2 separate regions of the Homo sapiens genome follow, and region 1 is linked to region 2. Evidence: fine-mapped expression QTL. Tissue or cell type: whole blood. Region 2 holds a variant in brackets; the other region holds the start of a gene. All regions are shown on one strand. Distances are between the middles of the regions.

The links. PIP is the estimated chance that this variant, and not a neighbour inherited with it, causes the effect.
Region 1: CHD5 starts here. The variant in region 2 is fine-mapped to the expression of CHD5 in whole blood (TOPMed, PIP above 0.99).

What each region holds. Positions count from the first base shown.
Region 1 is chr1:6,176,543-6,184,636 of GRCh38, reverse strand. It overlaps CHD5 (chromodomain helicase DNA binding protein 5), which reads left to right and starts at 4,316. Exons shown (of 42, transcript NM_015557.3): 1 at 4,316-4,692. The coding sequence starts at 4,614. RefSeq lists enhancers at 5,059-5,558, 5,559-6,060.
Region 2 is chr1:6,129,286-6,137,386 of GRCh38, reverse strand. CHD5 (chromodomain helicase DNA binding protein 5) reads left to right here. Exons shown (of 42, transcript NM_015557.3): 16 at 522-659; 17 at 749-870; 18 at 1,984-2,157; 19 at 2,528-2,669; 20 at 3,128-3,259; 21 at 5,639-5,756; 22 at 7,059-7,183. Among named protein-coding and RNA genes, the nearest start is that of CHD5, 47 kb to the left of the region's middle. The variant C/T (reference allele first, on the strand shown) is at 4,362.

The sequences.
Region 1 (8,094 bases), 47 kb before region 2:
AGGGGCTGACTGGGGTCGTGGAGAGTTTCAAGCCGTGATTTAAGTTCATAAGAGTCCGGAAACAGGAGGTTGGTCTCGTCTCAGCCAATGCCAGTTACACAACACCTTCACGCCCTTCCCTCGAGTGTGCTGGTACAGCTGAGGAAATGAGGTTTGTTGATGTCACTAAGTGCTACGAACTAGTCACTTCTAAAGGCTTCATGTTTTCCCTCCAAAAAGCCTCTGATCCCCCTTTTCCCATGGCACTTCCAGTGGTGAAGTGTTTGGGTTTTGAGGACTGTTGTCCTCATACATTTTCAGGAGCAGCCAGGTGTTGAAATACGTGGGTCCTAACTTTGCTCATGAATGGTGTGTAGCACAGAGGTGGTCAGAAACACGGGGAAAGTGAGGAAGTTGGATAATACCAAGTGTCTTAAGACAGTTGATATCTGGGGCTATCTAGAGCTCAGCCTTTTTAGGGGACACTTGATTTCCTGGAGGGTGATAAGGACCCTGGTGATGGGGAATAATGGTCCGGCTGTTGAAGTCATTGATGTCAGGGGAGCCTGGAATTTGGTGTTGACACCTGATTTCACTTTCCATTTGTACATGGGACTCAGACCCTTAAACTTGTCAAGTATTGTAAACCAAGACCTCCCACAGGAGAGGGGGACCTAGGATGTGGGACAGTTACAGATCTGGCAGTTCCAGGGGACAGACCATCTCCCCAGTAACCCTTGGACAGAATACTGGGGTGACGAGTCAGAAGCTGCAGGGTAGGGGCACCACGGCGGTGAGAGATGGGCCAGGTCCCTGAAGGAGAGCCTGGGTTGGCACCTGCCCAGGTTGTTCGCTGAGTCGTGGTGATGGGCCTGTATTTAGTGGAATAAACTGTGGGGTTGATTCTCTTTGAGGGAGAAGAGGGTAGAAGAGAGGCTTGGTGTGGGGATTTGCCATCCCTGCAAGGAGGTAGCCCTCCACCTACAGGAAGGAGGTGAGGACTGCCTGTTAAACGGTGCAATCATAGTGCTTATCTCTAGGAACAGGAAACTGAATTTCTCATCCAGCCATTTTCTTGTCTTTGGGATGGATTTGAGAATACACATTCTTTTTTTTCCCCCAGGCTATTTTGGGCCCAGCTAAAACAGTCTGTAAAGGCTGTGCTGACCAGCGGAGTGAGTTAGCTGCCACCATAGCTAGAACCCAGAGAACACCCATAAAACGTTCTCAGGCTTACACAAGGATTTTCTCAGGTTCAGGGCCATGGCCCAGGGCTGCCTTTTTGAGAAGCTCCTTCCTCCCCTGCAACCCCAACTGATTTGAATTCAGGTGGTGCAGGGTCCACACTTTCGGAAAAAGCCTTCAAGTGCAACGAAAGTCTTGGTGCAGCAGGTGGGCACTGAGCCTTCATTGCAGAGGACACTGCGGTCCTGAGTGACGCCGTTTCACCCCTGCCGAGGAGGAGGTGTGGGGCAGAGTTTTGATCTATGTGACTCGCTGTGAGGTGGTGTATGTACAAGCACTTCATTGCCCTTGAGAAGCTGGTGGTGCCAGGTGGCCACAGCGTGGATATGCATTGTTGAACGAAATGGCCTCAGGCAGGCCTTGGGGGTTCCTGGATGAGGAGTTCATTTAGTCCTGGAATGGAAATTGAGTATGGTATGTGCAGAAGACGATGAGCTTTTTCCACTCTGTTCTTGGAAAAAGTTTTTTTTTTTTCTATTTTTGAGACAGTCTCGCTCTGTCACCCAGGCTGGAGTGCAGTGGCGCAATCTTGGCTCACTGCAACCTCTGCCTCCTGGGTTGAAGCGAATCTCCTGCCTCACTCGCCCGAGCAGCTGGGATTACAGGCGCCCGCCACCATGCCCGGCTAATTTTTGTATTTTTAGTAGAGATGGGGTTTCTCCATGTTGGCCAGGCTGGTCTCGAACTCCTGACCTCAGGTGATCCATGACTGCCCGCCTCGGCATCCCAAAGTTCTGGGATTACAAGTGTGAGCCACTGCACCCAGCCGAAAAAAGTTTTTTCCTTGATGCTTTTGTAACCGGTATATTAAAAAATATTTTGATTTTGGAATTGTCACTGAGGTGTAATTATGAGCTCTATGATCAGCAAACATGAGAATCTTGTCTCCTAAAACAGTAACCTTAATGATAGGCTTGTTCTTGCAACGCAGAGTTGCAAGTTTCAGGGATTGCTTTTAACGTCATGCATTTTTGGTCCGTTGTCATTAAAATACCCATTTAATAGTTTAACAATAATAAGGGCTCACCTTTAAAAATGACTGGAGAGCCGGGCATGGTGGCTCACGCCTGTAATCCCAGCACTTTGGGAGGCCGAGGCAGGCGGATCACGAGGTCAGGAGATTGAGATCATCCTGGCCAACAGGGTGAAACTCTGTCTCTACCAAAATACAAAAAATTAGCCAGGTGTGGTGGTGCGCGCCTGTAGTCCCAGCTGCTACTGGGGAGGCTGAGGCAGGGGAATCGCTTGAACCCGGGAGGCGGAGATTTGCAGTGAGCTGAGATTGCGCCACTGCACCCCAGCCTGACGACAGACACCATCTCAACTCCCCCCCTTGAAAAAAAAAACCCAAAAAACCTGGAGATTTGTAGTAAAAAAATCCATTTGTTTCTAGCATTCCAGTTTTTGTTTCATTTTGCTTTTGGACATTAAATAATATTACCTAGTTGCAGTCATCGGGAAGAACAGGATGGGGAGAGGATTATGACTGATGAGCATCTCGGCTCTAATTTGTTGCCAGATTAAGCAGTTAGAACTGTTCTTTCTTGAACGATATCTTGACTTTCAGCCTCGCCTTGGGAATTGGAGCCAGGGTTAATGATGGGGGCGGCTTTCTGGTGATGAGAAGTATTGTAAATCAGAGTTTTTCTACCGAAGGGCAGGGGACCTTTGAAAGGGATTAGAGAGGTGTTGGGGGGCTGGTAACTGAGGGGTGGGCGTGTCAGCTTAGGGCTTTCTTCCCTTGTTGGTCACCATTCATGGAGGCAGTTGGTCTGGAAAGAACGAGGAAGAGGCAGGTTTGGTTCAAGCCTCGGTGATCTGGGGCTCCCCCTGGCTAGCTGCTCTGTGGGGAAACACGGCCTTGGGAGGGGAGGCCCTTTGGTTTCCTGGCCTGCTTCCCTGAAGAGTGTTCCTTTCCCCTTGCAGGCGGCCAGCACTGGGCTGACCCGGCTTCTCTATCTACAGCGTAGTTAAAGCGGATCTGGGAGATGGAGGGGTTCCCAACACCCCAGTCTTTGGTTCCAGAAGGCTGGACCGACCTCTCCTTGCCCAGGGATGAATGCAGAGGGTCTTTTGTTTGGGGTTTGCTGGCAATAAAATTGAACGGGAAGAAGGGAAACTGCTGCCGATCCTGCGTGTCTCAGGTGGGTTCCCCCAGTGCCCCTGCGAGGCAGTGAGAGGGGGCCCTCCCTTCACGGGCCTTCTGGGGTTAGAGAGCTGGCGGTCGGCCAGCCCCTGGAACTTTTGCGTTCTTAAGGTAGCTTTAAGACTTGCCGCCGCGGAGACTGGAGGCGCTCATTTAAAATTCCAGTCTTGCTCCCGAGGGCTTTGGCCTCCATCTTCACCTTTAACGACCGAGGGCTGGTGGCGGCGGCTCCTTCCTGCTCTGCGACAGGTGTCGCTTCTGAGCGGGAGTTTTGGGCACAGACATCGCAGATCCGCACCACCCCTAGGGGTCTGCATGGGTTTCAGCTGCACCCAGCCTGGAGGGGCTTTTTGGAAGGGGGCACGTGGGCGGTGGGAGCGGGGAAGCAGGTGAGGGGAGCCCGCCTGCGCGGATTTTTCTGCTGTAAATCAGACCCACAGTCTCCAGAGCGTCTTTTCCCCAAGTGTGGAACACATTTTTCTTCTAATCCTCTTTGGAGAGGGGGTTAGGAACGTGCCGAGGCCGGAGCCGGGAGCGGGGTGGGTCCCGGCGCCTGTGAACCGAGTGGGGGAGCGGGCCGCGCGCTGCCCTGAAGACCCTGCCTCCGCGCCCTTGGGGGCTCGGGGCCCAGCGCCTTCGCAGGCGAGCGGCGGCGGCTGGCTCTGCCCGGGGTGCGCGGGGGCGGTGTTTCCTCGCCTCCCCCTGCGCCCGGGCTCGCCAAGCCCCGACTGCCCGCTCGGCCGTCGGGTCCGCGGGCGCGCGGACGCCTCGACGGCTCCCCCTGCCGGGGCGCCCCCCGGTCCCCACCCTCACCCGGCGGCTCAGGACTAGTCCCCCAACTTGTTCTCTGCTGTTAACTAGTCGCGCTGCCGGAACGATGGGATGGGGTTGCCACAGCAACCAGACTGGACGTCACAATCCGGGCATGTGTGCCGCCCCCCCGCCGTGCCGCCGTGCCTCTGGCGCTGCCGCCGCCACCCTCGGCCGGCTGCGGGACTCGGGCTGCGGGGCGCGGTGGGAGGAGCGCCCGGGCTTTGCGGGGAGCAGGCTAAGGCGGCCGAGAGAAAGGGGGGTCGAGACGGGGGGGTGGAGGTTTGGGGGGGTGGGGGGGCAGGCGGCCGCCATCTTCTCGCCGAGGCCGCCTCGCCCGCCGCGCGCGCCGGTCCGGCAGCGCACGGGTTAAGGCTGGCACCGCGCCCGGCGGGAGGGGGGGCGCCCACCTCCCCTCCTCCCCGCGCCGGGCATGCGGGGCCCAGTGGGCACCGAGGAGGAGCTGCCGCGGCTGTTCGCCGAGGAGATGGAGAATGAGGACGAGATGTCAGGTGAGCGGGGCGCGGGTGCGCCTGGGGCCAGAGCGGCGGGGGCGCCGAGACGGGCCGGGCCCAGGGCGGAGCGCGGGCGGCGGGGGCGGCGCGGCCGGGCTGGCGCCTCGCAGGAGGGGCACCCGGGTTGCGGGGCTGCGCTCCCGCCCTGCTGGCGCCGCGCGGCCAAGGGCGAAGGCTGGGTGAGCGCCCGGGCCGGCGTGAGGGCGGCTAAGGGCGGGGTGCGATCCGGGCCCCCCGGGCGGCGACGCGGGCCAGGCGGGCCAGAGGACCGCGGGCCGGGGCCTGCGCTGGGGGGCGCGGCGCTGTCAGGGTCAGCCCGCGTGCCCTTGAAGGGGGCGGGAATCGCGCTAGCTCCCGGAGCGGCGCACCCCGCGCTCGCGTCCCGCCGCCGTGCGCCTCTGGCCTCGCTGCGGGCAGGCGGGACCCGGCCCCTGGCCCATGTCGGCCGCGGGGCGGGCTGGGTGGGGCCCAGAGAGGGGCGAGGACCGGCGGTGCTTGGGGACGCGTTGAGCGCCCAGGATGGGGCGGCTTCCCTCCCGGCCCAGGAGGACTCCGCTCTGGGACGCACGGGCTCGGACCCCTGCTCCTCTTTCCTGGCCTCTGTGCGCTGTGACCGCCGCTCCCAAGCACTTTACCCGGGCCGCCGGCGTCCTTCTGGCGCGACCTAGCGCCCGCCGCTGTCTCCAGCCTCACCATCGCCCAGGGTGGTGGCCGTTCCCAGCCCACCCTGCCTTGGCTACGGGCCTGACGCCCCAGGGCCACCGCCCCTGCCCCTACCATCTCTCTCCTTTTATCTCTCTCAGAATTTAGTATACACAGGGCTGTGCGCCAGGGGTTGCCTTGCGGGACAGTTCTTTAGTTAACTGCTCACCATTTGTTTGGGACGTTTTCCCTCCTGGCACAGCTGGGTAGGGCCCCACCCTGTCAGCCACCCTCCCTCCTTTCTGGGAGACTCTTACTTCTCGGCTTCCCTGCGCCAAGTCTGTGGCCTCTCTGGACTTCGGAGAGACTTGTGGGAGGCTGGAGGCCCTCCCGGGCCCAGGAACGTGCATCTGGCCCCTTCTGACTTCCAGGGGTGAGAAGACTCCACAAATGGACACCTCCAGCTCCTGTTGGAGGAAGCAGCCAGCGTCTTCTGGGGAGGGTATTCCCACCAGGTGGCCACACCCCCTGCCCCCTTCTGTTTGCTTGCTTGGTTAGTTGGTGGCTTTAATGCTGTCACTGAGCTCCTACAGGAGCCCGGCACTCACCTCGCCTGTTAGACAGGCCAAGTTGGCAGCGAGCGTGCTGGGGACGGGGAATAGGGGAGTCCTCTCTTGGGGTGGAGTTGCCTGGACAATAGTTGACTGTCATATCCTGGGTCCTTGGAATTAGACCCATTCTCCGGAGGGGAACTCTGAGGCCCCGCACAGGCACAAAAAAAAATCAGTGGCCATTTTCCACCTAGGAGGCTGGCTCCCCAGTAAGCCAGTTTACTGGTTTTCTCAGCAAGTTGTTTGTTATGGTGTTTGGGGTGTGGCCCTTTTGTGGGATCAGTGGCATTTCTGGGGTTGCACCGACCCGCTGGTGGAGTCCCCTGGCTGTCTTTCCCATCTTACACTCCGGCTCTCTCTGACTATGTGGGGACTTAGAGGTTGGGGAGGGGAAGAGGCCAGGGAAGGTGCCCCCAGTCTAGTAGGCACCCGACTCACTGCTTGGGCCAGAGAGGCGGGGCTCTGGTCATCCTGCCCACCACCCGTGCTCCCCCTCGGTGGGTTGGCCCCAGAGCCTCCAGGAGTGCCCCCAGAGCCCTGCAGAAGAGACGCCCTGCTCTGGCACCTCTGGCCTGGGGATTCTGTCCCCATCCATCAGCAAGGCCAGCTGCTCCACCTCCAGAGCCTTTCCAGGCTCCTGGCTTCTCTCCATGTTCTGGGTCCAAGCCTCTGTCCCCTCCTGCCGGTCCCCTCCAGGGCCTTCTACCCACTCCTTCTGACCACCCACTGCACAGCAGCTGGGGTCACCTCGTGAACCCAAGTCAGATCCCGACCCGCATGGCTCCAGTCGCCTCTGAAACCCTTGTCCCGGGTCCACTCCTGTACCCCTTTGTTCACAGCAGCCACGCTGGCCTCCTTGCTGCTTCTGGAACACTCCACGCTCCACGCTCCATCCTGCCATGGGGCCCTGGCTGTGACCTCTGCCTGACCTGCTCTTTCCTCTGCTCACCGCTGCCTCCTGGTCATTTAGGTCCCAGCTCGAATGTTATGATGGGGAGGGACACCCTTGCTAAGGGCCTTCCAGTCACTCTGAGACACATTGTCATGCTTTCTTTGGAAGAGATGGGGTCTTGCTGTGTTGCCCAAGCTGGATTTGAACTCCTGTGCTCAAGCGATCCTCCTGCCTCAACCTCCCTAGTAGCTGGGACTACATGCTTGTGTCACCACACCTCACATACTCGAAACGTTGTCATCAGTTTCCTCCTGGATCTGTGGGTTCCCCTTCGAATGTAACTCTCGATAACCTGCCATGCCCAGCACCTGAAACCATGCGTTCCTGAGAGATGGTTGTGGTTTCAGTGTCTGAGGGCTGGGACTCTCTAGGTCACCCCAGCTTCTGGCTGTGAAGACAGCCCTAGCCAGGCCTCCTGTCAAGTCGCACTGCTGGCCCCCCACTCACCCTGAGCTCTTCCTCATAGCCCCTATGCAGCCCTGAGTCCAAGCTCAGTGGCGGTGACCCCCAAAGACCAGAACCAGCTGGTTCCAAAAGATGGAAGTTTGTGGCTGGAGGAGCTAGTGTTTTGGAAGCTGTCATGATGATTTTTCAGTCTACGGCTATTAAACTCATGACTTGTCCGATCTTTTTTCTTTGACTCTGCTCATCTCCCACCTCCCCCTGGGAGTTGCTCACTCTCAGCAGTGAATTATTGTTTCCCGTGCAGTGATGGTGGGGAGGGGGAGGTTTGCCCTGGCCAGCTCTGGCATTGAGGCAGGTGTCTGAGCCAGCTTCTAGGAGGAAGGCAGGGCGGGTGCCTCTTCTGGTTGGGGGACCAGCAGTTGCCAGATTCTCCTGGGAGTTGGGGTGGCTGGTTGAAGCCAGGGGTCAAGAGCTGGTGGGATGAGGCCTTGGCTTCTAGCTCTGAGCATTAGCTGAGTGGTCTTGGACAAGCCAGGCAGCCCTCTCCTCGGTGTGCCCACTTGTAGTATGGGGACATAGCACTGGCTACCTCATAGAGGGTTATTATGAGGAACAGTGAGACAGTGCATGTGGAACATTAGGCCACAGTGCCCAGCACATGATAGGTGCTCAATAAACTGTGGCTGGTGTAGTTAGCACCAGCCAAGGAGGGCAGCTGTCCTGCCTTCTCCAAGGAAATGCTTCTGATACTTGCATCCTTAGCCAGTAAGCTCAGGGGAGTAGGAGCCT
Region 2 (8,101 bases):
GCCTGTAATCCCAACACTATGGGAGGTCGAGGTGGGCGGTTCACTTGAGTTCAGAAGTTTGAGACCAGCTTCAGCAACATGGTGAAACCCTGTCTCTACAAAAATACAAAAATTAGCTGGGTGTGGTAAGGCATGCCTGTAGTCCCAGCTACTCGGGAGGCTGAGATGGGAGGATTGCTTGAGCCTGGGAGGTGGAGGCTGCAAGTGAGTGGTGATCGTGCCACTGTACTCCACGCTGGGGGGTGGGAGTAAGACACTGTCTCACTGGAGCTGTTACAAGCCGAGGCCGTTTCTTCTCCTCCTCCACACCACCCTCTCTCAGGGCTGTGTTCTGAGCCTCAGTGGATGCCCCTCTGCTTGGTGGTCAGCATCTGCCCCTCTGGTCCTAGGCTGGCCGGCCCAGGGCTCCGTGGAGCCTTTGTGGGTTCCTGTGCACACCTCCTTCTTGGCTCTTTGTCTCCTGGGACTGTGATCCGCTCTGCTCCCAGCCGTCTCATCCCCAATGCCCCTCTTTTCTCCAGAAAGAAGTGCAGATCAAATTCCACGTGCTGCTCACCTCCTATGAGCTCATCACCATTGACCAGGCCATCCTGGGCTCCATCGAGTGGGCCTGCCTGGTGGTAGATGAGGCCCACCGCCTCAAGAACAACCAGTCCAAGGTAGGTGGCGCTGGCCGCCAGACCCCAGAGCTTCCCGGGGCGAGGGGCCGCCCAGAGCCCCCTGACAGGCCCCACTCTCCTCCCCTCAGTTTTTTAGGGTCTTAAACAGCTACAAGATTGATTACAAGCTGCTGCTGACAGGGACCCCCCTTCAGAACAACCTGGAGGAGCTGTTCCATCTCCTCAACTTCCTGACTCCAGAGAGGTTCAAGTGAGTCACCTGGATCTGGCTAGGGAGGTGGTGGTGGGGCTGGGTGGCCCCAGTGAAGACGGATCAATAGCCCATCCTGGCTGTGAGACCTGCTCGGCCGTTGCTTCCTCATCAGTAAAATGGGAGCATTAGCAATGTCCCCGCTTTGACCTCCTGCAGGAGCAGGGTGTTGGGGTGGGTGGCGTGGGCACATGGGAATGTTTGGTAAATATCAACTGCTGCTAATACCACGACTTTTCCTTAGCTCTGCCCTAGACCACCCGGGGTTCCTCCTGGACTGCCTCCCCTGGCAGGTTCCTTTCCCTCCACTGAGACCCAAGTGACTCACATAGGCAACCGTGGTGGAGGCAGAGGCAAGCTCCCCGGTGGCCGGAGCCCACCGCCCCATCCCCCTCATCTTCACCTACCTCCACTTGCCTGCTCAGAATGGGGGGTTCAGGGTGCACAGTGTCGATTTTGGAATCAGGAGATGCAGTGTTTTTTTTTTTTGTTGTTTTTTTTTATTAAAAGAAAGAGTCTCACTCTGTCACCCAGGCCAGAGTGCAGTGGCTTGATCTCAGTTCACTGCAACCTCCGCCTCCTGGGTTCAAGTGATTCTCCTGCCTCAGCCTCCTGAGTAGCTGGGATTACAGGCATGTGTCACCACGCCCGGCTAATTTTTGTATATCTTTAGTAGAGTTGGGGTTTCATCATATTGGCCAGGCTGGTCTTGAACTCCCGACGGGTGATCTGCCCGTCTCGGCCTCCCAAAGTGTTGGGATTACAGGCATGAGCCACCAGGAGATGTAGATTTGAGGGCCGGTTTTGGCACAGCTGGACTGTATCAACTCGGGCACTCATCAGAGTCAGTTTCCTCATCTGTTATCTGGGTAATAGAGAGCTCCTGTCCAGGACGGTTTTGAGGATGGAAAGGTGTCCAGTGTGGCTGAGGAAAAGAGGGCTGTGATGTGTGGAGGTGACACAGGCTTAGACAGAAATTGAGACGATATCCAGGGCAATGCCAGGGCTCCCTGGTTCACCAGCTAGCCGGCCTACATGGGCTAGGCGCTCTGCACCCTGCCTCCCCTGCCCCGGTCCTCTGCTCCTGGCTGTTATCCCAGCTTTTTGTTGCAGCAACCTGGAGGGCTTCCTGGAGGAGTTTGCTGACATCTCCAAGGAAGACCAGATCAAGAAGCTGCATGACCTGCTGGGGCCGCACATGCTCAGGCGGCTCAAGGCTGACGTGTTCAAGAACATGCCGGCCAAGACCGAGCTCATTGTCCGGGTGGAGCTGAGCCAGATGCAGAAGTGAGTGATGGGCTGACCCCGGAGCAGCCTGTGCTCGCCCTTTCCCCTGGGCTGGTCTCCTGGGTCGATTCCCAGGTGGGCGGAGGGCTCTTCAGCCTCACTGAGGTCTCGGCTAATGCTTTGCATACACTTTCTTCGTGGGGCCTCTTCTCAGGTTTTAGTGACCAGAGTTTGGGTCGCTTGAGTGCTGGCAGTGTCCCCCAGTCACTTGCAGGGGGACTCCAGGCCGGTGGCTTCACCTCTTGGGGGTCCCTTGGGTCTCTCTGTAAATGGGTGCTTGGCCACCAGCTTCCAGCCCCACTGCAGAGCAGAGAGAGCCCTCATGGAGGCGGGTCTGACCCAGCCTGCCTTTCCTCGTGCCCTGCTGCAGGAAGTACTACAAGTTCATCCTCACACGGAACTTTGAGGCACTGAACTCCAAGGGGGGCGGGAACCAAGTATCGCTGCTCAACATCATGATGGACCTGAAAAAGTGCTGCAACCACCCCTACCTCTTCCCTGTGGCTGCCGTGGTAGGTTTCCCCGGCCATCATGGCAGCTTCTCCATGACCGCCATGGTAGGTGCCTGTGGCCGCCATGGTAGGTCCCTGTGGCCGCTGTGATAGGTTCTCCTGGCCATTGTGGCGATTTCTGTGGCTGTCATGGTAGGTTTCCCTGGCCATCATGGAAGGTTGCCTGTGGCCACTCTGGTAGGTGCTGGGGAACTTACCGTGGAACCCGCTGCTGTGGTAGGGCTGGTGCGGCTGTGAGCCCTGCCTGGGAACGGGGGGCCTGGAGCCAGGGCCGTGGGACCCACGGTCTACCCCGCACTGTGGGGCCTGGCCTGGCTCGGGTGTGGGTCTCATGTTCAGTGGGCAGACAGGCCATCACCCCATTGCTCAGCACTTGTCTGTTCCCTGCGGCCCCTTTGGTGCAGAGTCAGAGAGGAGAGGGGAGCCCACCAATGCCCCACCTCCTGCTGTGTCTGCAGGAGGCCCCTGTCTTGCCCAATGGCTCCTACGATGGAAGCTCCCTGGTCAAGTCTTCAGGGAAGCTCATGCTGCTACAGAAGATGCTGAAGAAACTGCGGGATGAGGGGCACCGTGTGCTCATCTTCTCCCAGGTGCGCTGCCCCTGCCCACCCCCGCCCCGGCTCCACACCCCACAGAGAGCATCCTGCCCTGATGCTTGGGGGCGCAAACTTGCTGGCACCCCTCAGGGCCCAGTGCCGTTCCCATGTGGGTCATGTGACTGTGTGTCAGGGGTCACTCCCCCGTGCCCTGGCATAATGCGGCTGAGGAGCTCAGAACACATTTGCCATAAAGAGCAACATCTCCCCACACCTGCCCTTCTGGTCTGCATGTCCAGGCTGGTAGGACAGCCCCTCCTCCCCTGCCCTGGCCCTCTCCCCCGCAGCCTGGCTTCTCATTAAGGTAGGGCCCTGGGGTGTGGTTGGGAGGAGCCCCTCTCTCCAATAGGCCCTGAGGGGCCACTGGCACCTGGCTTTTTGGCTTGGAGGCAGGGCCGCCGGCTCAGGTGTGTTCATTTCTTCCTCCATCCCTTTGTTTGCGTCTGTCATAGTCAGGCTCTGTGCTGGCACATGGGTGCAGGGACCAGTGATCTAGTCCCTGTCCTCAAGCTGCTCAGTCTACTGTGGGAGACAGCTCAAGGGACAGGTACCCGACCCTGTGGTCAGCTCTGTGTTGGAGGCCACAGTGATGATCCTACAGGGTCATGGGGCTAAAAATGCTCCTCTCGTGGGCCCACTGAGCCAGGCCCCTTGCTCAAACCCAGAGTCTGGGCTATGGCTCCTTGTGCACAAACATCAACTGAAAGCAGCGTCCGCCGCCTGCAGCCCCAGGTCACCCTGCTGGGCTGCTTCAGCCCGAAGAATACTGGAAAGCAGGGCAAGTTTGAGACCAGGGGCTGAGCCAAGGAGTGGGCTGGAGTGGAGATGGACCCACATCCCCCCAGTACCTCGGTACCAACACGAGACGCAAGTCTGATCAGAGGCCTTGAGATACCAAGTAATGGGAACCACACAGCTTCCAGAAATGTGCACACAGGGCAAGCGACAGAGACGGGGCCCTCCTGCCCAAAATGAGCCTATGAACCCCAATTCCAAACCCATACAAAAGTGAATGCTGAGACATCCCCCAAAACAATAAATAGAATCCAAATAAGAAAATAGGGGCTGGGCGCAGTGGCTCACCCTGTAATCTCAG[C/T]GACTTGGGAGGTTGAGGCAGGAGGATTGCTTGAGCCCAGGAGTTCAGGGTTGCAGTGAGCTGTGATCTTGTCACTTCACTCCAGTCTGAGTGACAGAGCAAGACCCTGTCTCTTGAGAGAGAGAGAGAGAGAGAGAGAGAGAGAAAAGAATAGGATAGCCTGAAAAGACTTTACATAGATGTGTTTAGGATCCTCAAAAATGATGGAGTAATTGACACCCTAAAATAAAGAAGAAATTAAGCAAAAGCAGGAAGAACTGAAATAGGAACAATTGGATAGAAACATGCATGAAATTGAGATAAAACATTTCAACAGACTGGACAGACTCTGAACACTGTTGAAGAGAACATTGATAAATTGGAACCTGGTGCTGAGGCATTTTCCCAGAATGCAATGTACAGAGACAAAGATAAAACAGGGAGAACATGGAAGACACCTTGAGATGCTCCAACAATCATCCAATTGGAGTTGCAGAAGAAACAGAAAAAATGGTGAAGAAGTTGGATTTGTTGAGAGTTTGCAGACCTGGAGAGAAATGTGAGGTCTCAGATCTGGAGTGCATTCTGGAATAGCAAGCAAGATAAATATAAATAAATGAACCCGTAGACACGTTAGAACCTCTAGGTACTTTAGACCTAGTACCTACAAAATAAGGGCAGCCAGATCGTTCTCAGACTTCTTAACAACAACAGGTGGCAGAGACCATGGCAAAATCTCCGGTGCACTGAGGGAAAATGTGTGCTGATAGTTTTATATCCAGCTAAACTCTCTCTCGAGAATAAAGGGAATTATACGGGGTCATGGGAGCTCAGAAGGGACTGCCTTTCTTTTCTTATGGGGAGGAGTGAAATCAGGGAAGACATCACAGAGGTGATGTTTATGTTCCCTAGGCAGTAAGGGGGTGGGCATTCCAGGAAGAGAGTCAGGTAGTTTGGAATGGCTGGGGGCTGTGAAGGAGCACTCGTCCTGCAGCGCCTTGAATACAGGGCAGTGAGATGGAACTTAATTCTGTGTGGTGGGAGCAGGGGAGGCTCATGTCAGAGCCCTGATTTAGGTAAGTGGCTGTGGGGCTAGGCAGGAGGATGGATTGGCTCCAAGGGGTGAGGTTGGAAGCTTTGTTCTTCCCCAGAGTCCTGCATTGGGCCTGCCTGGGTCCCAGCTGTCTCCCCACCTAGCAGGCAGCTCTCTCCTCCCCTGCCTGTGGCGGGGTCCCCGCCCATGGCCCATGGGGCCCCTTGCTCCTTGGCAGTTCCTCACGTGCCCGTCTCCCCTGCAGATGACCAAGATGCTGGACCTCCTGGAGGACTTCCTGGAGTACGAAGGCTACAAGTATGAGCGGATTGATGGTGGCATCACCGGGGGCCTCCGGCAGGAGGCAATCGACAGATTCAATGGTACCCCCATCCTGCCCAAGGGTTCTGATTGAGACTCCTTTTTGGCCTCTTCTCCCAGGCCTGGTTCTTAGCCAGGTCACCCAGCTGGTGTTGTGTTGAGCAGCCTCACAAACAGCTAAAGACAGCAGGCCAGTCCGAGTTTCCAATGTTAAAAGGATTCCTCCCATGGAATCGGAGTTCTGAGGGGCCCAGTAGATAACACCTGTTGGGAATGGAGTTAGACAATGAGAAACGCAGACGGGGCCTCTAATATTGACGCCAGGTGAGCCCCAGTTACAAGTGGTGTTGGACAGAGCCTGCCGTATGGTGAATGGTGGCAGAAGGTACAGAGATGCACGTGCTACCTGGGGCCACTTCCAGAGGCAGGAGAGAGTGAAAGGGCTGGGCCACACATGATCAGGCTCTTTCCCCAGAGTCACCCATGCTTGGTCTTCCCTGCCTGGGAAGGAGAGGCGAGGGTGGAGGTCAGGAGGGTCTTGCCGGTGGAGTTCCTCCTGTAGCAAAAGAAACTTCTGGAGTGGGAAGCAGTCGGCTGTAAGCTTCAGTAGCAAGTTTGCAGCAAATAGTAACAAGCTTTGTTTCCCTGGGGCGTCAGCCCTTAGGGGCTGGGGCCACGCTCTCCAAACGCCCAAAGCAGTGATTCCTCTCAAACACTTGTGCCAGAGAGCCAGGAGGAATAGCAAGTTCAGAGTTTCAGGGTCTAGACGTGGCCCAGCCACATGTGGAAGCAGGAGTGGCTGAAGCCCTGGGTGTGCCAGGGGCCTGTTTGCAGCTCCAGTGGGGGCTGTGGTCAGTCCCAGGTCACTGAAGGGCCCTGAGAGGCTGAGAACCAGCCATCCTGTGACAGGGTTGCCCAGTGGGGTGGGACCCCAGGTCCCGGAGCTGCGCCCCTGAGTTTTCCCGGGCTGCCCTGGCAGCATCGGTGGGCTAAGGGAAGCCAGGGGTGGGAAGCTGCGGGGACATGAAGGACTCTGAGCTCTCTAGGGCTCTGCTTGTACTTGCTGGCGGCTTGCACTTTGTTTTTTGCTCATCTGGGGTTTGAAAATTGACCTCCTCGTTCCAGTGCCCTCCCACTGCACTAGGGCTCAGAGCTCGCTGGGGGCTAAGTGGGCTTGGGCAGGCCTCCTCTGGCTCCCCTGAGTGCAGCTGTGGCCACCCGTCTCTGATGGGGTCTCCGGCTTTGTCCTTCTCTGCCAGGGATCTGTTGCTGCAGTTCCTTCTCTCTGTTCTCTCCCCCATCCTTTCTGCCCACCCAAGGTGTACCCCCCCAAACACTCCCATCTGCTGGCCTCTCTTTTTCAGCCCCCGGGGCCCAGCAGTTCTGCTTCCTCCTCTCAACCCGGGCAGGTGGTCTGGGCATCAACCTGGCCACGGCGGACACTGTCATCATCTACGACTCGGACTGGAACCCGCACAATGACATCCAGGTCTGTGCTGCTGCCGCCCACCACCCTCCCAGGGGGCCTCTCATCCCGGGCCTCAGGCAGGTTCTGTCCTTCATGCCCTTCTTGCCATCACCCCCTCACCTATCCTGGTGCTGTGGGCCTCCCTCCCCCGTGGAGTCTCGGCCCCAAGAGGGGCTCTGGGAGTGAGTGGAAGCTTGGCCCCCATCCCTCCAGCTCTGTCCTTGTCCAGAGGAGGAAGCAGGCTTGGAGAGGGCAGGGGAAGTGTCCCAGGGCGCACAGCAGTTCCTAGTGGCCACTGATCTGGTCTTTCCCATCATCCTCAGGACCAAGGCCGTGGAGGGAGGCAGGAAGAGGGAGCCCTGGGACCCAGAGGGGCACCCATTTTGAAGGGGGTGGGGAGCAGAGAGTGGGGCCTGTTGGAGGTGGAGGGGAGGATAAGATAGTGCAAGGGGCAGATGGGGCTGTAAGGAAGGATGGAAGGGCTGTGGGGGGAGGGGTATGGGAATAGAGCCACCCTAGTGTACCTGGCCACCCCTCTCGGGCGCTGGGACACACACATTGAATGCTTACAAATGTAGGGGAACACATACAAATTGATGTCTCATTCACATGTGTGTGCGCCCATGCACATACACAGATATACACGGCCACACCCAGGTCACCTCATGTAGGGCTGCACAGAGTCTCAGGCACTTCCTTGTATTATACTGGGCAGATTCAGCTCCTTGCTGCCCTCAGAAGGTGGCTGCGTGTCTCCAGCACATGGTCTTGTGGTCCCATTAGTGGTTCGCTCACAGGGAAATGCAGCCTCCTACCTCCCCGTGGCCCCCACGAAGCTCTGTGTGGCTTCAGTTACACCCAGCACACTGGCCGTATCATCCCTCACACACTCTTGCACACCTGCAGTCCTGCCTGCTTCCAATGGCTAGAAGCTTTTCC